Linked DNA regions of Homo sapiens. The protein of the gene in region 2 interacts with the protein of the main gene of each other region in a pairwise test. Each region holds a gene or a part of one and is shown on either strand. Other genes may lie near its edges.

What was found.
Region 1: the proteins of UBQLN4 (region 2) and STAM2 interact in a two-hybrid assay, tested with the Homo sapiens proteins (one large-scale study listed by BioGRID and IntAct).
Region 3: the proteins of UBQLN4 (region 2) and DTX2 interact in a two-hybrid assay, tested with the Homo sapiens proteins (one large-scale study listed by BioGRID and IntAct).
Region 4: the proteins of UBQLN4 (region 2) and CCDC33 interact in a two-hybrid assay, tested with the Homo sapiens proteins (one large-scale study listed by BioGRID and IntAct).
Region 5: the proteins of UBQLN4 (region 2) and GKAP1 interact in a two-hybrid assay, tested with the Homo sapiens proteins (one large-scale study listed by BioGRID and IntAct).
Region 6: the proteins of UBQLN4 (region 2) and RBM10 interact in a two-hybrid assay, tested with the Homo sapiens proteins (one large-scale study listed by BioGRID and IntAct).
Region 7: the proteins of UBQLN4 (region 2) and TRIM32 interact in binary tests that used the Homo sapiens proteins (3 or more experiments, as listed by UniProt).

The regions. Positions count from the first base shown.
Region 1 is NC_000002.12:152,144,764-152,148,263, forward strand, and holds part of STAM2 (signal transducing adapter molecule 2), read right to left. Parts: coding exon 3,462-3,500; intron 3,360-3,461; coding exon 3,261-3,359; intron 2,546-3,260; coding exon 2,399-2,545; intron 195-2,398; coding exon 125-194; intron 1-124.
Region 2 is NC_000001.11:156,050,999-156,055,293, forward strand, and holds the start of UBQLN4 (ubiquilin-4), read right to left. Parts: upstream 2,801-4,295; 5' UTR 2,704-2,800; coding exon 2,596-2,703; intron 860-2,595; coding exon 708-859; intron 330-707; coding exon 112-329; intron 1-111. Other genes in the region: ragulator complex protein LAMTOR2, read left to right, coding at 3,892-3,959, 4,265-4,295. UniProt on the Homo sapiens protein: Regulator of protein degradation that mediates the proteasomal targeting of misfolded, mislocalized or accumulated proteins.
Region 3 is NC_000007.14:76,468,209-76,471,708, reverse strand, and holds part of DTX2 (probable E3 ubiquitin-protein ligase DTX2), read right to left. Parts: intron 1,690-3,500; exon of another isoform or gene 1-1,689. UniProt on the Homo sapiens protein: Regulator of Notch signaling, a signaling pathway involved in cell-cell communications that regulates a broad spectrum of cell-fate determinations.
Region 4 is NC_000015.10:74,274,326-74,277,825, reverse strand, and holds part of CCDC33 (coiled-coil domain-containing protein 33), read right to left. Parts: intron 1-3,500.
Region 5 is NC_000009.12:83,741,848-83,744,769, forward strand, and holds part of GKAP1 (G kinase-anchoring protein 1), read right to left. Parts: intron 754-2,922; coding exon 683-753; intron 183-682; coding exon 105-182; intron 1-104. UniProt on the Homo sapiens protein: Regulates insulin-dependent IRS1 tyrosine phosphorylation in adipocytes by modulating the availability of IRS1 to IR tyrosine kinase. Its association with IRS1 is required for insulin-induced translocation of SLC2A4 to the cell membrane.
Region 6 is NC_000023.11:47,183,221-47,187,313, forward strand, and holds the end of RBM10 (RNA-binding protein 10), read left to right. Parts: intron 1-1,834; coding exon 1,835-1,984; intron 1,985-2,081; coding exon 2,082-2,147; intron 2,148-2,221; coding exon 2,222-2,410; intron 2,411-2,495; coding exon 2,496-2,570; intron 2,571-2,844; coding exon 2,845-2,951; intron 2,952-3,037; coding exon 3,038-3,167; intron 3,168-3,253; coding exon 3,254-3,379; 3' UTR 3,380-3,593; downstream 3,594-4,093. UniProt on the Homo sapiens protein: Binds to ssRNA containing the consensus sequence 5'-AGGUAA-3'. May be involved in post-transcriptional processing, most probably in mRNA splicing. Binds to RNA homopolymers, with a preference for poly(G) and poly(U) and little for poly(A).
Region 7 is NC_000009.12:116,697,305-116,699,551, reverse strand, and holds part of TRIM32 (E3 ubiquitin-protein ligase TRIM32), read right to left. Parts: intron 2,180-2,247; exon of another isoform or gene 2,119-2,179; intron 1,891-2,118; 5' UTR 1,810-1,890; coding exon 1-1,809. UniProt on the Homo sapiens protein: E3 ubiquitin ligase that plays a role in various biological processes including neural stem cell differentiation, innate immunity, inflammatory resonse and autophagy.

The DNA.
Region 1 (3,500 bases), on a different chromosome or scaffold from region 2:
CTTGACCTCATGATCTGCCCACTTCGGCCTCCCAAAGTGCTGGGATTACAGGCGTGAGCCACCGCGCCCAGCCCTGGCAAAGATATTTTAAGCAACACTAAATTACATGTGCTTGATCATTTACCTTTAGCTATGTCTTCATCCTCTTTGTTTTTGTTCGATGACGTACCATTCTTGGCAGCAGCTGAGACAGTCTGTAAATGTATGAGTAAAATGAACACAACTATCTTTTCAAACAAAACACAAGCTCCATAATTACTTGCAGATGGTAAATTTTAAAAAATACTGATATAACTGAGTTTCATTTAAAAGTGAAGTTCTTTTTTGAGACAGGGTCTCATTCTGTCAGCCAGGTTGCAGTGCATGGCACAGTCATAGCTCACTGTAACCTCCAACTCCTGGGCTCAAGTGATCCTCTTGCCTCAGCCTCCTGGGAAGCCGGAACTAGAGGTGTATGCATCCACAACCGGCTAATTTTTATTTTTTGTAGAGACAGGGTCTCACTATGTTTCCTGGGCTGATCTGCAACTCTTAGCCTCAAGTGATTCTCCTGTCTCAGCCTACCAAAGTGCTAAGATTACAGGCATGAGCCACCATCACTGGTCTAAAAGTGAAGTTCTTTATAATAATTTTAAATAATTGTTTTCAAATACTAAAATAAAACATCAGATTTTTCAAGAAAACATTATAAACTCACACAGGGATCAAACTGGCTTAGATTTTGCATAAATGTAACACAGAACTTGGCATACAGAAAGTACTTAAATATTAATAGAATTTAAAAAAGACTCTTTTCTGATTGTATTCCCGATCTCAATTGTCCAAGGTCTCTTAGTGAGAGGAGCTCTGCTATAGGAGTACAGCTACACGAGGAGTGCCAGCAAGAAGTCATGATCATCACTGAAGAGAGAGGAATGGGGACAGAGACAAGAGGTGCAGTTCTAGGAATATGTGTGAAGTCCTTTTACTAGTTATTGTGGCTGGGTGGCAGTGGTCTGCCAGACATAGCAGAGAAGTAAGGAAGGTCATGCTTGAATTTAATAAACAGCATGTAAGACAGGTATCCAGGACTGATCCATCAACCGGTTCTTTACATAGATTTTTCAGAAAAATATGCAGAAAGGACAGAACAGGAAAATGTTTCCTTTTTATTACTTATAAGACTCTTATCTCAAAACGTTACCTTGTACCCTTAGGTCTGGTCAGCTATAAAGAATCTTTTTTCGGCCAGCGTGGTGGCTCATGCCTGTAATCCCAGCACTTTGAGAGGTCGAGGCAGGTGGATCACCTGAGGTCAGAAGTTTGAGACCAGCCTGGTCAACATGGTGAAACCCCGTCTCTACTAAAAATACAAAAAATTAGCCGGGCATGGTGGTAGGCACCTGCAATCCCAGCTACTCTAAAGGCGGAGGCAGGAGAATTGCTTAAACCCGGGAGACAGAGATTGCAGTGAGCTGAGGTTGTGCCACTGCACTCCAGCCTGGGCAACAAGAGCAAAACTCCATCTCAAAAAAAAAAAAAAAAAAATCTTTTTTTCTCTTTAATCTATGATTTAAAATAAAAGAAAATATAGTACTTCTCATCGTCTCTTTCCCTAGCCCATATCTTAATATTAATGGGAAGGAATAAGGTACTGAGAGCAAAACCCAAGGAATAGTATTTTTCTCCCCTAGACCTAAAAAAACCAGCCCACTCCATGAGTCAACATCCCTGCCTCCACACCCCAGTTCTACTAAAGCTATCCCTTCTCCCAGCAAATAAATTTCTAGTCTTACATTTCCATCCATCTTGTATGTGAAGCATTCACTCTAGGCATATTCACTCTTGAACAAACAAGTCTTGAGCCTCTCAATTCCATGAATTTGTTCATTTCACTTACCTCCTGATATGACTTCTTCACTTCTCTCTAACAAAATATTAATACATTCAAGTCTCAAAATTCTACCTCTTTACCTTCTTCACCATTCCAATCTGTAGTCACCTCTTTCTCTCTTTGGTATTAAGATAGACAGTATGCAGTCTATTCCCCTCATCCTGTATTTGTCACTTACAATCTAAATTAGTTATTTTTCACATGTATAAAGCTATCATTCAAATTTGCTACAAATTTCTTGAATATAAGGGGTATGTCATATACCTATGCCTTTTGCATGACTGTAGACTTAGAGGAACATTAAATACACTATGTCTGATTAACTTCACAAGGTTCTGATATGTGGAAGAAATACACATAAAAACTAGAATGTCTACTAAACGTAAGGAAGGCACTATGCTAGAGAGTCATTTGGGAAGTAAAGGTGGAAAATGATAATCTAGACATACCTTGCCTAGTCTTTACATAACATACATACCTTCAAAATATTATAGGGTCAACCATGGGTCTGAATAAATCTCTCACCTGAGAACCTGCTGGAGGAAAAGTAATTCCTTCTTCTTTCATAGATTTAATAGTTGCAGATATCAGACTAAACTGAGGGTCCTTCTGAAATTCTTCTGACCACTCCACCATTAAAGATTTCAGTTTTTCACATACTTTAGGATGTGCCTTTTAAGGAAAAGGAAAGGAAAATAAACAAAAATCTACGGTTAAAATAAGTACTTAAATTATTTAACAAGGAGAATTACCATCAAAATTCTCTTTAATTATATGAACATCAACAAAAGTCCTGAAATTTCTAGCCTAGTTGAGTAATTGATAGATGCCTATTTACATGTTGTGATATAGTTGTTTCATACAAAATGACTGTTTTTAACACCAATTCCTAAGTCTTACTATAATGACAACAGATCTTTTATATTCAGAGATTATTTCCTCCATGTTTCGGAGAATGGAGCCAGAGAAACCTGGATGTAAATCATGGCTATTCCAGTTACCAGCTGCATGACCTTGGACAAGTTACTTCTAAGTCTCAGTTTTTGCATTTATAAAATAAGAATGATAAGGGAATCTAACTTCCAAGAATCTAATGCTCCAAGGGTAGTTAAGAGCATTCAACAAGACAGTATATGTAAAATGCTTAAAGTAATGACTACTTACTAGCCCTCAAAAAGGATTTGCTATTATTTACAGTATATATACTTTGGGGAGAATAGTTTTTGGTGCTACACATTAAAAAATCAAATTTCAGAACAGTTTATTTCATTTCAATGATCTAAAAATGACTTCATTTATAATACTTTAGTAATGCCACATATAGTTATAATGACACACAATCTACATTTTTTTAATGACTTAAAGTTCTTCTGTTTTTAAAATTTACCTTATTTTTAATCACAGCACGTACTTCTGTTGCAAAATCACGGGAACATACTTCTAAATGAAATATCTTTCCACAGTTTGCCACACAAGCCCCAAGAAGCTATTAATTGAAATAAAAATATATGAATATTGAAATATTAACTTACTGTAATTAAAAACACATTTAAAATTTGCGTCAAATAATAACATGCCTTGTACTCACAGTTAGTGCTTGCAGAGCAACATGTGGAACCTTATGATT
Region 2 (4,295 bases):
GTCCCCTATCCCCATCAGACCAGGAGCAGGAACTCCTGTTTCTCCCTCCTCTTGGCTTTCCCCAACTCCCCAACCCCAAACAAGATTGTGCTCTCCTCTCTGAGGGCTTACAGAGTATGGACGCAGTAGCACTGGGGGATCCCTCCCCAGCCCCCGGAGAGGGCCCCCCACCACTGCTCCTCCGGCTTCCACTGCCAGCATCTGAAGAGGCACTGCCAGAGGTGGAGGGCTGGGCAGGGGTGGCGGGTGAAGCAGGCGTGGTGGAGGGTGCTGAGGCAGGGTCAGGTGTGGAGGGGGAAGAAGCAGTGGCAGCAGCTGGATCTTGAGCCCTGAGGACAGAGAAAGGAGAATCCTGTTGGAGTGAGCACTAGAAGAGGGAAGGTACCGTGACAATCTCTGTGCTTGCTATGGGACAACTATTTTAACCCAAGACCCCTCCTGAGCAGTCCTGAGGCTGGAGTGGGGTGATGGCGGGAGGGCAGTCAGTAAACCAGCAGAGGGAGAAAGGAGCTAGTATTATCTGTCTTCAGGGCATTCTGGGAATGGTAAATCAGGTTCCCTTCCCCTAGAGATGAGATCATATTCATCCAGGAGCTACCTGCCTGGGCCTCAGCTTAGGCCCTCTGGGTACAGTTAAGCAATGAGTGAGAAAGTATCAGATGGGGAGGCCCAATCAGAAGCTGGATCTGCTCTGCTCCTGAACTTACTTCTGAGGGGTCTTGATGACCAGATGGACAGTGAGCCCGTCCTTGATTCCGTGCTGGTTCAGTGTGTCCCCATCCTTGAGGATCTTGCCTGCGAAGATCAGGACCAGCTGATCCTGCTGAGCCTTAAACCTCCGGGAGATTTCCTCTTTGAACTGTGATCAAGAGGCAGAGGTCACTGTGGAGGCTGCCTGGACTCCCCCTACCAGGGACCCTGACTCTTTTTCAACACCTTCTGCACTCTCTTGCTCTCATCTCTAGTCATGGGAAGTCCTTTCTGTAGTCTCGACGCCATTCCTCCAGCTGCAATAAGCATCTCCTTTCTTAACAAAGGAGATGAACCAGTGAGAGGCTCTTCTCTCAGCTCCATCCCAGAGTCTCCCACCCTAGAAAGCCCCTGCTGCTATCTGCCTCCCAGCTTCAGTCCCTCCACCTAGTTCTCTGTAAGGCAGAGCAGCCTCCCATCCCAACTCCTTCAACAGCTTTGGACCTTCAGCCTTCTGAGACCCAATTTTCTCTCCTCTCTATTCCCAGTATTCTCTTAACAACTACAACAAATAGATGCCAGTTATTGAGCACTACCTATTCACCAGTTAAAGATATAGTATATTGTTATTTTCATTTTATTATTATTTTTATCTTGAGATGGAGTCTCGCTCTGTAGCCCAGGCTGGAGTGCAGAGGTGCGATCTTGGCTCACTGTAACCTCCATCTTCCGGGTTCAAGTGATTCTCCTGCTTCAGCCTCCCGAGTGTCTGGGACTACAGGCACACACCACCATGCCTGGCTAATTGTATTTTTAGTAGAGACGGGGTTTCACCATGTTGGCCAGGCTGGTCTTGAACTCGTGACCTCAGGTGATCCACCAGACTCAGACTCCCAAAGTGCTGGGATTACAGGTGTGAGCCACCACGCCCAGCCGTATCTCCATTTTAAAGATGAGAAAACTGAGGATCAGCGAGGTAAGGTAACTTGCCCCAGGCAGACCAGAACTCAGGTCTTGACACCAAAGTCCAGGCTCTTAACTAAACACACTGCCTCTCAATGAGAGCCGTTTTCAAATTCAGCTTTGTAGGGAACATACAGTATTTAAATTCTGAAATTTAGTAATTCTATGTGGTTAGGGAGGGAGCAAGGATGGAGTTAGACTTCCCAAATTCTACCAGCCCCTCCAAAACACAACACAAAACAAAACACAACACACACTTTAAGTAAAAACAGTGCACTTGTTAAGCAGAGGCTGCTTCCAGATCCCTCTCTTCCAACCAGATGGCCTATCTTAAGCCCCGCCTATGTGAAATTATGGAGCGGCCACAGGGGGTGGCGAACACAGGCAACAGTCCGTCATTCAACAAGATTTTATTGAGCACCTACTGCACACCGTGTAAATCTCAGAAGAGCTGAGAACCAAATGTAACCACGTCGATTTGAAAGAGTGGGAAGGATCTGGGCACAGGGAAATCCTCCCCCGACAGCCCCGTCGCTCAGAGAACACTGGGCGTTCTCTGAGGCACAGAGTAGGCGCCGGCGCTCTCCGCCTGCCCCCGGCCCGTTCTCTCAGTTAGCACCTAGCCCGGGCCCCCACTCCGGCACACTCCCCTCAAACCCAGGGTCCTTCCCCCTTCCCGGTGCAAGGTGTCCCCTCCTCACTCTCCACCACGCCCCCAGGCCACAAGGCAAAACCCGCCCCTCAACACGCGCCACGCTCCCCCAGATCTCCCCTCGCAGGGCGCCCCCTACCCGCCTCTCCTTGCCTTCAGCTCCTCGGAGTCCCAGCCGGCCCCCGCCCTCCTCTCCGGGGCCCTCCGGGACGCCGGACCGTCAGAGAGGCCCCCCATCTCTTCGCAGACCCCTCCTCCGCGCTCCCCCCGCCCCCCGCCTGCTGTACTACCTCCTTGACCGAGGCTCGATCGCAGATCACAATTTCCTCCTTGTCCTTGGGGGTCTTGACGGTGACCCGAATGGGGGGCCTCGTCTCGGCCCCGCTCGGCTCCGCCATGCCGCCGCCGCCACCCGGCCGCCCGCCAGCCCGCCCGGCTCCTCCTCCTCCCCGCCCGCCCGGCCGGCCCGGCTCGGCTTCTGCGCCTCCAACACTCCCCTCTCTCCACCTCTCCCCTCCCCTCCCCTCCCCTCCTCTCTCCTCCCCTCCCCTCCCCGAGGCTTCACCGCCCCCTCCGGACCAGCCGCAGCCACAGCGCCCCGGGCGGACCGGGGGGGCCACTGCAGCGGGGTCCGCCCAGGGCCAAGCCCCAGGTCCGGAGCCCGGCCAGGGTCTCGCCAGGCGGGGGCCCCTGGGGGGCCTCTGGGAGGGGGAAGGGGCGTGCCCTTCATTGCGGGGGCGAGGGCGGACTGCCCCGGGAGACCGCGACCCAACGCTGCCCGCCCGAGCCGTGCCGCGGTCCCCTCCAGCCCAAAGCCTCCCCGCCCCCTCCGCGGCTAACTCGGCTCCGGGACAAAGGACTTTCTGTGTCGCCGCTTTATCTCCGTTCCCTGTGATAACTTGGTCTTTCTTGGAAGCCCAAGTCCCTTCCAGGCCAGGGGACTTTCCCGACTTGGAGGTTGGGTTTTCCCACCAAGCACGTCCACCTAGGTTCTCAGCTCTGGGACTGACCCTATAGCCCCGAGGGTCGCGGCCTGAATGGTCTATTAAGAACGGTTCCAGGGAGCTGGGTTTTGGCTGCGTGGCCTTTCAGAGCCTTGGTTTCCTCAAGATAATAATAATAGTACCTCTCGCCTCATCGCACAGAATTGTGCATAACGGAGAAAACTGTTTTGAAAGTAACCAAAGGCGTGCCTGACAAATATGAGGATGTAGTATAATTATTGAATCGTGGACTGCCAAGCGGACACGTTGATTCCTTTCTCCCCGAAGGGGTTAAATGTCCTTCCAGCGCTGCTGCTGTCCTTTCACTCCCGTTCTTTTCCGCCCCCCAACAACCGCGTGGTCGGCTTGGAAAGGCGAACTATAATTCCCAGGGTGCCTCGCGAGGCCACAAAGAACTACGATTCCCAGAGCCCCCCGCGGTGGGGCGGGGTTGAGTCGGAACCACAATAGCCAGGCGAAGAAACTACAACTCCCAGGGCGTCCCGGAGCAGGCCAACGGGACTACGGGAAGCAGCGGGCAGCGGCCCGCGGGAGGCACCTCGGAGATCTGGGTGCAAAAGCCCAGGGTTAGGAACCGTAGGCATGCTGCGCCCCAAGGCTTTGACCCAGGTGCTAAGCCAAGCCAACACTGGAGGCGTCCAGAGCACCCTGTGAGTGCAGACCACGGACCCGAGCGGCGAGCGCTGCAGTGGGGCGGCGCGCGGCTCCCTGAGGGAGGGGTGGGGAAGGATCACCAGGAAGGGAGGAAGCGGCAGAGGGGGCAGCGGCTGGGGATACCGGCCGGGAGGTCCCCTGTCGAAAAGGGAAGCCGGTGTGCTGGGTGCTTAGGGCATGTTCCGGGACACGCTCAGGCCAGAGCCTTGCTGGATGTGCCCTTGGTGGGACTTGGGATGGAAACCCAGACGTTTTACTCCCCGCTCTGAGCACATCGCTATCCCTCCCCGCCCCTCACCAGGCTGCTGAATAACGAGGGATCACTGCTGGCC
Region 3 (3,500 bases), on a different chromosome or scaffold from region 2:
AACAGTAATAGCAGGCCTGGTGCAGTGGCTCACACCTTGTGATCCCAGCACTTTGACTGGCTGAGGCAGAAGGACTGCTTTGAGCCCAGGGGTTCAAAGTTGCAGTGAGCTATGATCGTGCCACTACACTCCAACCTGGGCAACAGAGCGAGACCCTGTCTCTTTAAAAAAAAATAAATAACAGCCAAGCAGGAACCCGCATCCAGGAACACAGCCCTTTGCTCCTCCCTCAGAATGAATGGAAACCAGGCTGGGCGCGGTGGCTCACACCTGTAATCCCAGCACTTTGGGAGGCCAAGGCGGGCGGATCACGAGGTCAGGAGATCGAGACCATCGTGGCTAACATGGTGAAACCCTGTCTCTACTAAAAATACAAAAAATTAGCCGGGCGCGGTGGCGGGTGCCTGTAGTCCCGGCTACTAGGGAGGCTGAGGCAGGAGAATGGCGTGAACCCAGGAAGTGGAGTTTGCAGTGAGCCAAGATCGCGCCACTGCACTCCAGCCTGGGCGACAGAGCAAGACTCCGTCTCAAAAAAAAAAAAAAAAAAAAAAAGAACGAATGGAAACCAGAAATCAGATATTTATGCCCAAGCAAAGCAGGATTTCGTTCAGCACTACTCCCAGATCGTTAGGGTGCTGACTGAGGATGAGATGGGGCACCCAGAGACAGGAGATGCTACTGCCCGGCTCAAGGAGGTCCTGGAGTACAATGCCATTGGAGGCAAGTATCACCGAGGTTTGATGGTGCTAGTAGCGTTCCGGGAGCTGGTGGAGCCGAGGAAACTGGATGCTGATAGTCTCCAGTGGGCACCGACTGTGGGCTGGTATGCGCAACTGCTGCAAGCTTTCTTCCTGGTGGCAGATGACATTATGGATTCATCCCTTACCTGCCAGGGACAGATCTCCTGGTATCAGAAGCTGGGCATGGGTTTGGATGCCATCAATGATGCTATCCTTCTGGAAGCATGTATCTACTGCCTGCTGAAGCTGTATTGCCGGGAGCAGCCCTATTACCTGAACCTGATGGAGCTCTTCCAGCAGAATTCTTATCAGACTGAGATTGGGCAGACCCTCGACCTCATCACAACCCCCCAGGGCAATGTGGATCTTCGCAGATGCACCGAAAAAAGGCACAAATCTGTTGTCAAGTACAAGACAGCTTTCTACTCCTTCTACCTTCCTGTAGCTGCAGCCATGTACATGTCAAGAATGGATGACAAGAAGGAGCACACCAGTGCCAAGAAGATCCTGCTGGAGATTCAAGAGTTCTTTCAGATTCAGGATGATTACCTTGACTTCTCTGGGGACCCCAGTGTGACTGGCAGAGTTGGCAATGACTTCCAGGACAACAAATGCAGCTGGCTGGTGGTTCAGTGTCTGCTACAGGCCACTCCAGAACAGTACCAGATCCTGAAGGAAAATTACAGGCAGAAGGAGGCCGAGAAGGTGGCCCGGGTGAAGGCACTATACGAGGAGCTGGATCTGCCAGCCGTGTTCTTGCAGTATGAGAAAGACAGTTACAGCCACGTTATGGGTCTCATCGAATAGTACGCAGAGCCCCTGCCCCCAGCCATCTTTCTGGGGCTTGTGCACAAAATCTACAAGTGGAAAAAGTGACCTAGAGACTGCAAGGGCGGGGAGAGAAGGCTCTCAATAAGTAAATTATTGTGTAAAATAAATAAATAAATGAATAACAGCAATGGCTACCAGGTAAAGGTTTACCAGGCACCAGGCACCGTGCTAAGCCCCTCCACCTGACTAGTAATTCTCGTTGGTCCTCACAACTGGGGAAGCGGGATATTTCCATACCACAACTGAGAAAAGTGAGTCACCAGAAGACATGCAGCTTGCCCAAGGATATCCAGGGACTGAGAAAACCCAAATCTGTTTCCAGAGTTCCTGTCTTTCCCACCAAGACAGACTGACGACGGACAAACTGGCCTGTAGATGTGTTTTGCTTGGGTTACTAAGGTTTGGCTTTTAAAAACTGAGCTGATGTTTAAAAATTGGAATATTTGGCCGGGCTCAGTGGCTCACACCTGTAATCCCAGCACTTTGGGAGGCCGAGGCAGGCAGATCATGAGGTCAGGAGAGCGAGACCATCCTGGCTAATGCAGTGAAACCCTGTCTCTACTAAAAAATACAAAAAATTAGCCAAGTGTGGTGGCGAGCGCCTGTAGTCCCAGTTACTCGGGAGGCTGAGGCAGGAGAATTGCTTGAACCTAAGAAGTGGAGGTTGCAGTGAGCCAAGATTATGCCACTGCACTCCAGCTTGGGCGACAGAATGAGAATCCGTCTCAAAAAAAAAAAAAAAAGGAATATTCACAGTAAAAAAAAAAAAAAAAAAAATCTAGATTTCAAGCTTCCCTTGAAAATCAGGAAAGATGGCAATATTTGCAGGCTGGACCTAGATCCATGATCTACCTAGCAACACCAGCTAAACTGCAATGGTGGCTGGAACGTCCTCTCTGGGTGGCCACAGCTACCATGACTCCCTATGGCTAGGGCCAGCATGCTTTTCCTGTAAAGGACAGAAAAAGTCTTTGCAGTGACTCTGCCACTAGACCACAAGAACAACCATAAACAATGTGTAAACAGGAGGGGTTGCATACCAATATAACTTTATGAACAAAATCAGGCAGTGGGGCTGAATGCGGTAGCTCACGCCTGTAATCCCAGCACTTCGGGAGGCTGAGGTGGGTGGATCATTTGAGGCCAGGAGTTTGAGACCAGCCTGGCCAATACAGTGAAACCCCGTATCTACCAAAAAAATACAAAGATGAGCCAGGCGTAGTGGCGTGCACCTGTAGTCCCAGCTACTTGGGAGGCTGGGGCAGGAGAATCACTTGAACCCAGGAGGCGGAGGCTGCAGTGAGCCGAGACTGTGCCACTGTACTCCAGCCTGGGCAACAGAGTTAGACCCTGCCTCAAAAAAAAAAAAAAAAAAAAAATGCTGGGCGTGGTGGCTCACGCCTATAATCCCAGCACTTTGGGAGGCCAAGCGGGGGTGGATCACCTGAGGTCAGGAGTTCGAGACCAGCCTGGCCAACATGGTGAAACCTTGTCTCTACTAAAAATACAAAAATTAGCCAGGCATGGTGGCTGGTGCCTGTAATCCCAGCTACTCAGGAGGCTGAGGCAGGAGAATTTCTTGAACCTGGGAGGCGGAGGCTGCAGTGAGCTGAGATCGTGCCATTGCACTCCAGCCTGGCAACAGAGTGAGACTCCATCTCAAAAAAAAAAAAAAAAAAAAAAAAAAAATGGCAGTGGGCCAGATTTGGCTGAGGGTCCATCGTTTGCAGACCTCTGCCCTGTGGCCTCCCTCACATCTATTACTGTACTTTCACACTCCTACAGTTGAGCAATACTTCTCTGAACTCATGTCTCTATCAAAAAGTGAGAGAGTGCTCTGCCTCTGGCTAGCTTTGCCAACAACACGCCCTGCCCTCTGCAGACATGTCAGCCTTTGCCCAACACCTAAGGGTGAAATACAGCATCCAA
Region 4 (3,500 bases), on a different chromosome or scaffold from region 2:
AGCCTATGAAGCCAGAGGTGGTGAGTGGCTGCCGGCCCAATAAGGAACAGCCCTTTCCCTGAGTAGTTTCCCAGGGCAAGTCACTTAGGAAAGATCACTTCAGACCTAGGACTGGGGAGGGAGGGTCAGCCTGTCTTGTGCATGTGCAGGCAGGAGTGGTGGGAACTCAAAGTTAGAAGACCTGCAGTCTGACGCCAGAGCCCTGGTGAGGGTACTGTGGCTGATGTGTGTGCAGGATGGGGGCGGGGAGAGGCAGGCATCGCCTGCAGATGCTAATGGAAGGGCCACAGCGGTAGTGGAATTATGGAATGTCATTAACCCTCAGCTGTGATCTTCAGAAAAGCCATTAACCCCCAGCCATGGAGGCAGACCTGCTTCCCCTGGGGACAGAGCCTTCATTCCATGGCCCCTCCACGCCCACCGCCTTATTTCCCCTGGGCCCACCCACATCCACCTCTGCCTGCTCTGCCCAGGCATAGTGGCCGCCATCTGGAGGAGTAGCTGCTGGGAGCAGATGCTGGGCTGGGGTCTCTAGGGATCTAGGACCCCTTGGCTCTGGGTCTGGGTCTGCCTCAACCTTGCTGTGTGGCCTTCAAGTCCCTTCTCCTCTTTGGGACCTACTTTTCCCATCATCCCATGGGGATATGCCTCAAACTCCTCACTTTGAAAGCCTGTTGTAAGGTTAAAGGAGACAATGGATGTTTTGCTATTAAGATGTAAGTTCAACTTCACTGAACTCAGCAAATGTTGACTCTGGGGGGCTTCTCCATTCCAGATGCCTGTGGGGTGCTGTAGAGCCAGACTCTGCCCCCGACCCTGTAGCCCACCATCATCCAGGAGGATAGGGGACAGACAGACAGACAGACAGACAGACACACACACACAAACATGTAGAGTCCTAAGCAAGCTGTGGTTGTGGGAGCTGGGGTGTGCGAGGAGAAAGCCATGACTTCTGACCCCATTCCTCAGGGAGGACCTGAAGGACAAGGGCAGTAGGTAAGGAAGAGGAAGGCCATTCCAGACTGCGAGTGCAGCAGAGGTGGAGGCTGGAGGTGGGAAGGGGCAGTGTGGGTGTGGAGAACAGCAAGCTGTCCAGTGGGGCTGCAGAATGCCTGTATGAGCTGGAGCCATAAGCCAGGAGGCTGGAGGGCACAGGGCCTGTGGACCTGGCTGAGAGTGGGATTTGCCTTGTCGTGATAGTAACAGGGGGCCCAGGGGAAGGGCTAGGCAGGGGATGCCCTGGCTGCTCCTCAGAGAATGGATGGCAGGGGCCTGAGGGGAGGCTAGCACTAGGGCAGGGTCTGTGGGGATGGAAGGGGCCCCAGGAGAGCTTGGGGACAGGCCAGCTGTGGGGCTGAGAGAGGAGGGGATGGTGGTGGGCACACATGGCTTCCCGGAGCTCCACTCCAGCTCTGTAGGAGACCAGAACAACAGGAGCAGCCTGTTGGGCAATGGGCCCCTTCCAAGGTGCCGGGGTAGGAGTAACTTACACGGCCCACCCTATGTTGGTTCCAGCAGGCTGGACCAGGTGAAGTCCGACAGGCCATCTACCCCTTAACTCACCAGTTCAGCCTTTGCCATCATCACCAGGCTCCACTGAGGGCCACCTAGCCCACCACCATGCCCCTCCTTGCCTCATCACCAGCAGATGGCCCTTGGGTTCGGGTGGCTCCGCCTCCATAACCTTCCACATTTATACCAGCAAGGCAGAGCCACACCCCTCCTTAGTGATTGGCTCAGGGAAGTGCATGTAACCCAATCCTGGCTAATCAGACAGGAAGGAGGTCTGCTGAGGGATGGCTGGGTAAGGTTGGTTTCCAGTTGCTCTTTAAAACCACCTACAAGAAGAGAGGGTGCTGCTGGGTGCGGTGCCTCAGGCCTGTAATTCCAGCACTTTGGGAGGCCAAGGTGGGCGTATCGCCAGAGGTCGGGAGTTCAAGATCAGCCTGGTTAACATGGTTGAACCCTATCTCTACTAAATATACAAAATTAGCTGGGCATGGTGGCGCTCGCCTGTAATCCCAGATACTCGGGAGGCTGAGGCAGGAGAATTGCTTGAACCCAGGAGGCAGAGGTTGCAGTGTGAGCCAGGATTGCGCCACTGCACTCCAGCCTGGGGGACAGAGACTTGGTCGCAAAAAAAAAAAGAGAGGCTGCCTCTTATCTGCTGGTCTTTCATTCTATTTGGATGAAGTGCCCCCATGAGCCGTTAGCCAGCTGAAGATGGTAATTCGGGGTGTTGGAAAGATCCTGAGACCTCGAGGATGCTTCTGAGCCTGAGCATCCACCAATTCTGGCAGCATTCTATGTCGTGAGTTGATGTGGTGTGTGACAATAAATATCCTTAGTATTTAAGCCGATCCAAGTTGGGGTTTCTGTTACTTGGAGCCAGATGTGAAAAGGGCAGTGGTGAGGCTGGCCTCAGAGGGGACACTGGCACTAGGGGAGGTACAGCTCTGTTAAGAGTGGAACCCATTTACCTTGGACCCTGGGCCTGGACACTTTGCAAAGATTATCCTTTGAGTTCTCCTAACAGATTGGAATCAATGAGTCTGGAGAAAGGAGCAGCTTACCAAAGGTCATGCAGCCAGTAAGTTACAGAGCTGGGGTCAAACCCAGGTCAAACAGTGCTTTTGCACAGTGACAGTTGGTGAGAAATCACAGCCCCCCAAGATGTCAGAGAGGGCAGGCCCTAAAATTACCAAGTCCAATCCCACCCCCTCAAGTGTAGAGATGAGGGGACTGACGCTCAAAGGGAACAGGGCAGGGGTCTGTGTGAAGACTGAGCTCACGCTGCTGACTGGTGCCCCTCCAGGTATGGCTCTGCCCGGGCAATCCCCACCCCTCCTTACCACAGCAGCCTGCTCCTGTTCTCTCACTGCTGCACCTGGGCACCTCTGTGCCAGCTGCCAGCAAATTCCCAACCTGGCCCAGCTGCCATGGGGTTGGGTGATGTTCAACAGGTGTCCTGCCATTGCTGGACCGGGTCCCACACATGCAAAAGGCACTGGGAACAAGTCTCTGTAGTGAGTGGCACCTCTCCTACCCAGACTAGTTAGGCAGCAAAGGCAGCCAGAGAAAGCCTGGGGGTGGGAGGGGGCACACTCATTAAAGCAGGCAGTGCCTCTTGCCCCTTGGGACAGCCTGCTGATTGGTTCTTAATTTTCTGGGCAAATGCAGGGCCATGTGTGAGGTAACTCTAGGGAAATCAGGCAAAGGATTGGTTTGGGTTTGAAGCCTCTGTCCCCAGGGTCCCCCTTTGTCCCACTCCTCCCCACCACCATCACTCTACCCCATGTCTGAGCCTTCTTCAAATGTCTTTGCCTTTAAATGAAGCCTGGGCTCCAAAGGGGTGTCTTGTTCTATTTTTGCTATGCCAGACATAAGCACTGGTGGGCAGACAATAGGAGGGACCTCCAAAAATCCCTCTGTCCCCCAAGGCCCCTAGGAATGTTGGGACCATCGTGTAGGGCAAGCTGGCAGTGAAGCGCAGATCATGA
Region 5 (2,922 bases), on a different chromosome or scaffold from region 2:
AATAAATTTTGGCCTAAGAATAAAATACTGCATTTATTCTCACACAGTATCTACTCCAAATGTATTATTTGTGATAAAAACACTTATAAATTATAAAAGCATACCTGGTATTTGGCTAACTCTGCTTGTAATACTTTCACTTTAGATCTTTCTTGTTCTAATGCAGCATGAAGTGAAGTCACCTATAACCAAATATTCAATAAGAAAAAGAATTTTTGGGGTTTTTGGCAAATACTCAATTCTTAACATATTCACAATGATAGGTTTTTGACAGCTAAATGGATGAGTAACAGAGAAGCTCCCCCCATAATTTCCATTTGGTATTGTACACAGCTCTATGTTAAAGATGGGGCAAACTGTCCTGAGAGAAGAAGACAATAAGGATGTGAAGGGGAGAAAAATCAAGCCCAGATACAGGGTTAAGTTCTATTGGCCCTTTCTGTCTCTAAATTCATGGTTCATTAAAATACAGCCTTATCATCCCCTATTCTTCAGGGGGAAGGACATACCTACCTCTTTTAGTGCTGTAAACAGAATCTTCATTCATGGGCTATTACATAATAATAAAGTATAATTTATACTACATCCTTACAGTGTTGATGAGCTGTATTTGTTAAGTTTAATAATTCAAGACTAAAGACAGCTTAAGAAAACCAGTCATGTATGCTCCACAGTTCCTTACCTGAATAGTGAGCTCATTCTTGATACTTTGTGATTCATCAACTTGCAGAAGTATTTCTGCCTTATCTTTCACTGACAAAAAAGGAAAAACAGCAGTATAGATTTTCCAGTCACCCAAATACTTCAACAATACTTCAGGGAACTAAGACATAGCAGTGCAATTAGAACAATGATTTCTTGTCATACTTAAAGAATCTACTTCTTGACCTTGCATAGCTCTTACTTTTCACTGGTAAATTCTTTTTTGTTTGTTTGTTTTACATTTTCACCAGTAAATTCTGATCATCATCAGCACAGCATTTTTTTCTTAGAAATTTTACATTTTCTGTGGTGTTAAAATATTTATTGCTGGGCATGGTGGCTCACACCTATAATCCCAGCACTTTGGGAGGCCAAGGTGGGCAGATCACTTGAAGCCAGAAGTTGGAGACCAGCCTGGCCAACATGGCAAAACCCTGTCTCTACTAAAAAATATTATACAAAAATTATCCAGGTGTGGTGGCGCATGCCTGTAATCCCAACTACTTGGAAGGCTGAGGCATAAGGATCCCTTCAACTGGGGAGGTGGTGGTTGCTGTGAGCCAAGATGGTGCCACTGCACTCCAGCCTGGGCGACAGAGAGAGACTCTGTCAATAAAAAAATACATATTTTTTAATTGCACAAATATGGTGCAAGATTAATTTTTATATCTACTCTAAATAGGACAAGGATACAAGAAAACAAAATTTCACATATGGAAAAAACTTTATAAATACCTTGACTAATCTTAAGGCATGATTTTAAAAACAATTATGGTAGCTCACACCTGTAATCCTAGCACTTTGGGAGGCTGAGGCAGGCAGATCACCTGAGGTCAGGGGTTCAAAATCAGCCTGGCCAACATGGCAAAATCCTGTCCCTAGTAAAAACACAAAAATTAGCCAGGTATGGTGGCACATTCTTGTAATCCCAGCTACTCGGGAGGCTGAGGCAGGAGAATCACTTCAACCCATGAGGCGGAGGCTGCAGTAAGCCAAGCTCACGCCACTGGACTCCAGCCTGGGTGACAGAGTGAGATTCGTCTCAAAATAAATAAATAAAAACAATGCAGAGTGCTTTTTTTGTTGAATTGTTGGGGGTGGTGAGCATACCATAATGCCAACAAAATTATATTTCTCTGAATAAATTTTCATACCAATAAGGCAATGTCAACTAAATGTAGCTCATATGATCACAAATGATCATATGACATGTGTGGTCTCTTAGAACTATTCATTTTTTTCTAGAGGCTTCTCTCTCTTGGGAGAAGCGAGGTATCTATACTTTGGCCCTATGTTTCCTAAGCTTCAGAAATTTTCACATGGCTGAGAACTTCCTTAACTCATGGTAACGGCTAATGTATGAAAAACTAACTCCTCACTTTGAAAACAAACTAGGAGAGACTAGAGAGGTAAAATTGTAATAAAATTAGCAAAGGAGGAAAATGACTACTGATATCACCACAGCTCTGCCAATGTAAGATTGTAGTTCAAATTCATTTTCATAGTTTAATATGATAAGATGAAACACCCTATCAAGAATCAATTCAGTCTCTCAAGAATCAACCTGGGAACTTTTACAAATTATGCTTTCTACTCCTCCATCCCCAGGATTATAAACACTTGCTGAAAACTAGTGATTTTAAAGAGTTATGTAATATTTCAATTACAATCAGTTCTCCTATAATGCTTGTTTTGAAAACACAAATTTGTTTCAATGAGGTTGATGTATTAGGTAACAACTTGAACATAACACAAATTTTCAATACACTTATGTACAATTTTATGAACAGAGAAAACCACACCCACATGTACTCCTTGAATATCTACCAGCTACCTTGGTTCACTGTGTGTTAGGAAACACACCCATCTGGTCTGACAACTTTCCATCCTTCCACCATGCAGCAGTAACACACAAGCTATAACCCTTCTGAGACCTACTTCCCCACAAGCAAACTTCAGGTTTTCTTCAAGGTAAAGTGCCATATTTATGTAATATTTATGTATTTAACCATTTTAACATGTGTAAAACTGCGTTACTGTTTTTATTAGTTTCCCATCTTTTTTTCATGTGTCACTGACAACGATTTTAAGTGCTGTGCTTCTAACCTTCCTTTTTCTCGTAAGTATTGTGGGGATTTTTTGTTTCTTTGAGACAGGTGTATTAGTTCATTCTCACACTACTATAAAGAACTGCCTGAGAATGGGTAATTTATAAAGAAA
Region 6 (4,093 bases), on a different chromosome or scaffold from region 2:
ACTCAAAAGGTGGAGGGGGGCCGGGAGCCGTGGCTCATGCCTGTAATCCCAGCAGTTTGGGAGGCTGGGGTGGGCAGATCACCTGAGGTCAGGAGTTTGAGACCAGCCTGGCCAACATGGCGAAACCCCGTCTCTACTAAAAATACAAAAATTAGCCAGGCGTGGTGGCAGGCGCCTGTAATCCCGGCTACTCAGGAAGCTGAGGCAGGAGAATCACTTGAACCCAGGAGGCGGAGGTTGCAGTGAGCTGAGATCGTGCCATTGCACTCCAGCCTGGGCAACAAGAACGAGACTCCTTCTCAAAATATATATATATTATATATATATAAAGGTGGAGGAGATGGGAGGGGGTGAAGGATGAAAAATTACTTAATGGGTATGATGTACATTATTTGGCTGATGGATGCTCTAAGAACCCTGACTTCAGCACTATACAATCTGTGCATGTAACAAAAGCACTTGTTTATTTTATTTATTTATTTATTATTTTTTTGAGATGGAGTTTCGCTCTTATCATCCAGGCTGGAGTGCAGTGGTGCAATCTCGGATCACTGCAGCCTCCACCTCCTGGGTTCAAGCAATTCTCCTCCCTCAGCCTCCCGAGTAGCTGGGATTACAGGCATCCGCCACCATGCCCAGCTAATTTTTTTGTAATTTTAGTAGAGACGGGTTTTCGCCATGTTGGCCAGGCTGGTCTCAAACTCCTGACCTCAGGTGATGTGTCTGTCTCGGCCTCCCAAAGTGCTGGGATTATAGGCATGAGCTACCGCGCCTGGCTACAAAAGCACTTGTTACCCCATAAACTTATACAATTTCTTTAAAAAGCAGCCGCGATCTCTTGAGGAGGGCAGAGCCTTTGTGACCTAATCACCTCTGAAAGGCCCTGCCTGTCAACACTGTTGCATCAGGGATTAAATTTATCTTTTGAGATGGAGTTTCACTCTTGTTGCCTGGGCTGGAGTGCAATGGTGCAATCTCAGCACACTGCAGCCTCCGCCTCCCGGGTTCAAGGAATTCTCCTGCCTCAGCCTTCCAAGTAGCTGGGATTACAGGCATCCACCACCACGCCCAGCTAATTTTGTATTTTTTTAGTAGAGCTGGGGTTTCACTGTGTTAGCCAGGCTGGTCTCAAACTCCTGACCTCAAGTGATCCACCCGCCTTGGCCTCCCAAAGTGCTGGGATTACAGGTGTGAGCCACTGCACTCAGCCGGGATAAAGGCTCCACCTGTGAACACTGTTGCATTAGGGATTACATTTCTGACACATGAACTTTGAGGGACAAAAAACATAGCAGAGAACACAGCCAGAGAGGGGCTTGGCAAGAAGCACTGGTGACTGGTGACAGAAAATAGGAACTTGCACTACTGTGTCCCTCACCTTCTGATTGTTCTGCCTCAGCTTCCACTCATCTGCCTCCCAGATGGGCCCGCCACTCTGTCCACACTGCTTCTGCCACCTCACCATTGCAAACCAGTGGGGGTGGGGGCACAGGGTGTGTTCAGTGATGAGGTCAGGAGTAGCCAGGTGCCAAGTGCCTTGCAGGCTGTGGTTGCGAGTTTGGGTTTATTCTTGGTGTGATGGGAGGCGAAGGAAGGGTTTTAAGGACATTGTATTTGGGGGTGGGAGTGGCTTATACTTCATGAAAGAGCGCTCTGCTGGGAAAGGTGGTCAGGAGCCGTAGCCCAGAGGCCAGATGAAGCCTTCTGCAGTGGTTCGGACTAGGGATAGTGGCTGGCCCGTGTTTGAGGATGCAGGGCAGTGGGTCAGCAGATAGAGTTAGTAGCCCCAGGGTCATGAGGGTTCTGGGAACCTCACCTCCACCCTCACCCCCAGATTGCCAAGGACATGGAACGCTGGGCCCGCAGTCTCAACAAACAAAAAGAAAACTTCAAAAATAGCTTCCAGCCTATCAGCTCCCTGCGAGATGACGAGAGGCGGGAGTCAGCCACTGCAGATGCTGGCTATGCCATCCTCGAGAAGAAGGTGTGTTGGGGCCACCCCCCTGCACCCTGCCCCACAATCTTGTCCTTCCTTTGGGCCCTCTGTGGAGTCCCTGAATTTCTGTGTCCCTCCACCCCAGGGAGCACTAGCCGAGAGACAGCACACCAGCATGGATCTCCCGAAATTGGCCAGTGACGACCGCCCAGTGAGTGCCCAAGGCAGAGAGGGGCGGGGGCTCTGATCTGGCCAGGCCTGACCGCCCACCCTCACCCTCTACAGAGCCCTCCGCGAGGACTGGTGGCAGCCTACAGCGGGGAGAGTGACAGTGAGGAGGAGCAGGAGCGTGGGGGCCCTGAGCGGGAGGAGAAGCTCACCGACTGGCAGAAGCTGGCCTGTCTGCTCTGCCGACGCCAGTTCCCCAGCAAAGAGGCGCTCATCCGGCACCAGCAGCTCTCAGGGCTCCACAAGGTAACAGCGGATGGTTGGCAGGGCATGCTGGGGCCTGGCCCACTGAGGCTCATCCTCTTCACTTCTCATCCTGTCCCTCTTGCAGCAAAACCTTGAGATTCACCGGCGAGCCCACTTGTCAGAAAACGAGCTAGAAGCACTAGAGAAGAATGACATGGAGGTGAGGTGTGACCTGACCCTGGGCTCCCTCCCCTGTGTCCCTTCCAAGTCCCCATCACCTCAGGCAGCTGGAGTTCAATTTCTCACGTGTTAACCCCGTGAGCCTTCTTCCCCATTTTCCTATCCTGGCTGCTTGTGCCTGTGATGGCCTGACCCTCAGGACCTGAGCCTCATTAGCCAGATGGCATGCCCTGTGGGACCCCACTCCCCATGCCTGTGTTGCCTGAGAAAAGAGACCAGCTCCCCAACATTCACATACACATACAAACTTTCAGCAAATGAAGTACCGGGACCGTGCAGCTGAACGCAGAGAAAAGTATGGCATCCCCGAGCCGCCAGAGCCCAAGAGGAGGAAGTACGGCGGCATATCCACAGCCTCTGTGTGAGTGGCTGGGCCAGGTGAGGGGGTCTGGAGCCCGGGGCCGGGGCCGGCAGGCCGACCACTCATGCTGTGCACCGCCCCTGCAGAGACTTCGAGCAGCCTACTCGGGACGGGCTGGGCAGTGACAACATTGGCAGTCGGATGCTGCAGGCCATGGGCTGGAAAGAGGGCAGCGGCCTGGGCCGCAAGAAGCAGGGCATTGTAACGCCTATCGAGGTGAGTCTCAGGCAGTCCTGTCCCATCCCCCAGCACCCCTCACAGCATCCCCCACCAGCCTGACAGAGCCTGCCTCCCTCACACAGGCCCAAACACGGGTGCGGGGCTCCGGCCTGGGTGCACGGGGCAGCTCCTACGGGGTCACCTCAACCGAGTCCTACAAGGAGACACTGCACAAGACAATGGTGACCCGCTTCAACGAGGCCCAGTGAGCAGCTTCAAGAGCAACTTCTCCACATGTTGGGTGTCCATCCTGGGGCAGGGAAGGACAGAGTGTTGGATGGCTGGGACGGGGCCTTGCTCTTGTCGGCCAGCCCACTCCCCAGCCAGAGAGGGCTTGACCAAATCAAATTGAGGTGGTGACTTTTGTTGGAAAATTGGGCTGGGATCACGTCCTGTTTTGTAATAAAAGCTGAAAAGTCTGCATGTTGGCCTCTCCTCTTTCTCGTGCTCTAGCACAGTTGTATAGCCTATACAGACACGGGGACCCAAGCAGATGGACAGGGGACCTTATCAGGCCAAGGTGGATGGCAGTGGTGGCATTCAGTGTCTGGAACATAATGGCTACTAGAACATGGGGTTCTGACCTGTACCCCGACCCATAATATCCTGGTTATGGCCCCTCTCCCTTGTTGGTTCCAGCAGGTTATGTTGTACCAGGAAATCTAGCACCACCAGGCATGAAGCGCCCCCTGATCAGAGCTAGGACTGGGAACCCCCATCCCCTGTCCTTGCTGCCCCCTGGCTTTACTTAGCCTGCAGTCCCAAGGCTAAACTGCATTTTGCCATCCCTAGATCTGGAGACAATGCCCTCAGGCATCTCCAAGTAGAATACAAGAGGTACTCAGGTTCCAGTTGGCCCAGAGCCCTCAACAGGCTGATGACAGAGGGGTGGAGGTGGAGCTTGGCCTGCAAATCCAAGGCCA
Region 7 (2,247 bases), on a different chromosome or scaffold from region 2:
AGGAAAATGGAGAATTTCCTTGCGACTACTGTCAGCCACGATGAGATCACCACGAGCATCCACACACATGCCAGCAATGCAGCGGAAATCCTCATTCTCCGAGAAGAAGTGGCTAATCTGGCGACCCAGCTGCCCATCAGGGCCTACAGAGCCAATGGAAAAGCCACCCTCCAGGTGGTGCTCATTCTGCCGATTCTCCAGATTGAGGCCTAAGCCCTGGGTGAAGTAGACGGTGCCCTCAGCATCACAGGTGACAAATTTGGGCCGCACAGCACTACATAGGCAGCTGTATTTGACCACCCCTGATCCTCGATCAACTGTGAAACACCAAAGCTTTCCACCTTCCACATCGGTTACTACAAACTGGCCAGATGGCAAGGCTGTGATACCCCATGGTTTGCTCAGCTGGCTCCTGTGACAGGCCACGCAGTGGCCATCCAAGGTATATACCTTGAGGGAGTTATCATAGCTGTCAGTCACACCAATCAGCCCCTGGCAGTTCATTGCCACTGAGAGAGGAGTGAGGTTGGGTAGATCTGCCCCAAGGAAGCTTAGCACAAAGCTATCAATGCCACTGGGGCTGCGGCGGATTTCCTTCAAAAAGCCTTTGCGGGTAAAGACTTGTATACGATAGTTACCACGGTCAGCGACTAGTACTTCACCTTGACTGGTCACGTAGAGACTGACTGGAAGATTGAACATTCCTGGAGTGCTGCCTTTGGCCCCCATCTTCTTGAGAAAGAGGCACTGCTGGATATTGGAGGCTGCCTCAGGACCCCGCTGTTTAGCAGGTGAGGCCCTAGGGCTGGCAACCACTTCCTCCGGGCTCATGTCCATCTCTCTAAAAGTAACAGAGGTAGAGGCAGCAGACGCTGTGGCCTCCATGGCCCAGGAATCTTCCACGTTAACTGTCCGGGGCTTCTTAACAGCTTGTCCAATTTGGAGGGGGCCAACATGACCTACCTTAAGGAGCTCCACATCTTGCAGGGTGAGCTCCCGAGGCAAGCTGGCAGTGAGCTCTGGCTCCTCCTCATCAGCTGTCTCCTCCAGTAGTGCTACATCTGCCTGCTTGATCTTGGCCAGGAAGTAGTCACAGCGAGACACAGCCTGCACCTCTGCAATGTTAAGCAGGTAACTCTGCTCCTCTACCACTTGACTATTGGACTTCTCAACTTCAGCCAAAGAGCCTGTGAAGAACTTCCGAGAGCGAGCCAGCTCATCCTGGACCCTGCGCTCCTCATGCCCATACTCCTGGAGAACTGCTTTATACCTTGCCTGAAGGTCCTTGGAGACACCTTCCAAGGCTGCCTTCCGCCGCTGCAGCTCCCCCATAAGTTCCCGCAGACGAGTTAACTTCTCTCCAAAGTCCCGACGCCGCTCCTCAGCTGCTTCTTTGACAGGGAGTGTACAGTGGCCAGGAGGCTGATGGTCTGCCTCCCGGCAGGGCTCACATAACACCAAACCACAGCTCCGGCAGAATTGCCGGGGCAGACGCCGCCCACAGGACCGACACATGAGCAGCCCCACAGCCTCGCTGAGCCCAGCTGTATCAATGATCTTTAGCACTGTCAGATTGTCTGTCAGCTGGGTCAAGCTGGTTATGCGGGTAATCTTGCTGCAAAAGGGACAGCGGACACCATTGATGCTACTGGCCAATAGCTTCTCCAGGCACTGGCGGCAGATGGTATGGCCACAGTGCAGAAGCTTGGGACGCAGCTGCTCTTCTGTGAAGGACTCCATGCAGATGGGGCATTCTAGCACTTCCCGGAGGGCATCCAGGTTCAGGTGAGAAGCTGCTGCTGCAGCCATTGCTCTTCCTTTGAAGGGTATTGCTAGCACAGCTCAGAACTGAACAGCACAGTATTCATGCCCTAGAGGGTCAAATTCCTGCTAAAGAGAAAAAGAAACCATTATTCATTTTCCTCTGACTATATAAATAAATTCACTCAAGAAACATTTAGAGAATAGCTATGACCAGTCATTCAGTCATTCCCTTACTTAACAACTATTTTATTGAGGTCTATTATATGTCACGTGAGGGTGACAGATAGGGAAACAAACCAGACAAAACACTGCATAGTGGGAAATAATTCAGATTCTGTAGTCTCAGACACTTACTTAGCTGCATGACCATAAGGAATTAACTCAAACTTCCAAAAGCTCTTTCCCCATCACTCATCTGTAAAATAGAAGTAATAATGGTGTCTGCCTTATATGGTTATTATAAGGGCTAAGTAACAAGATAAA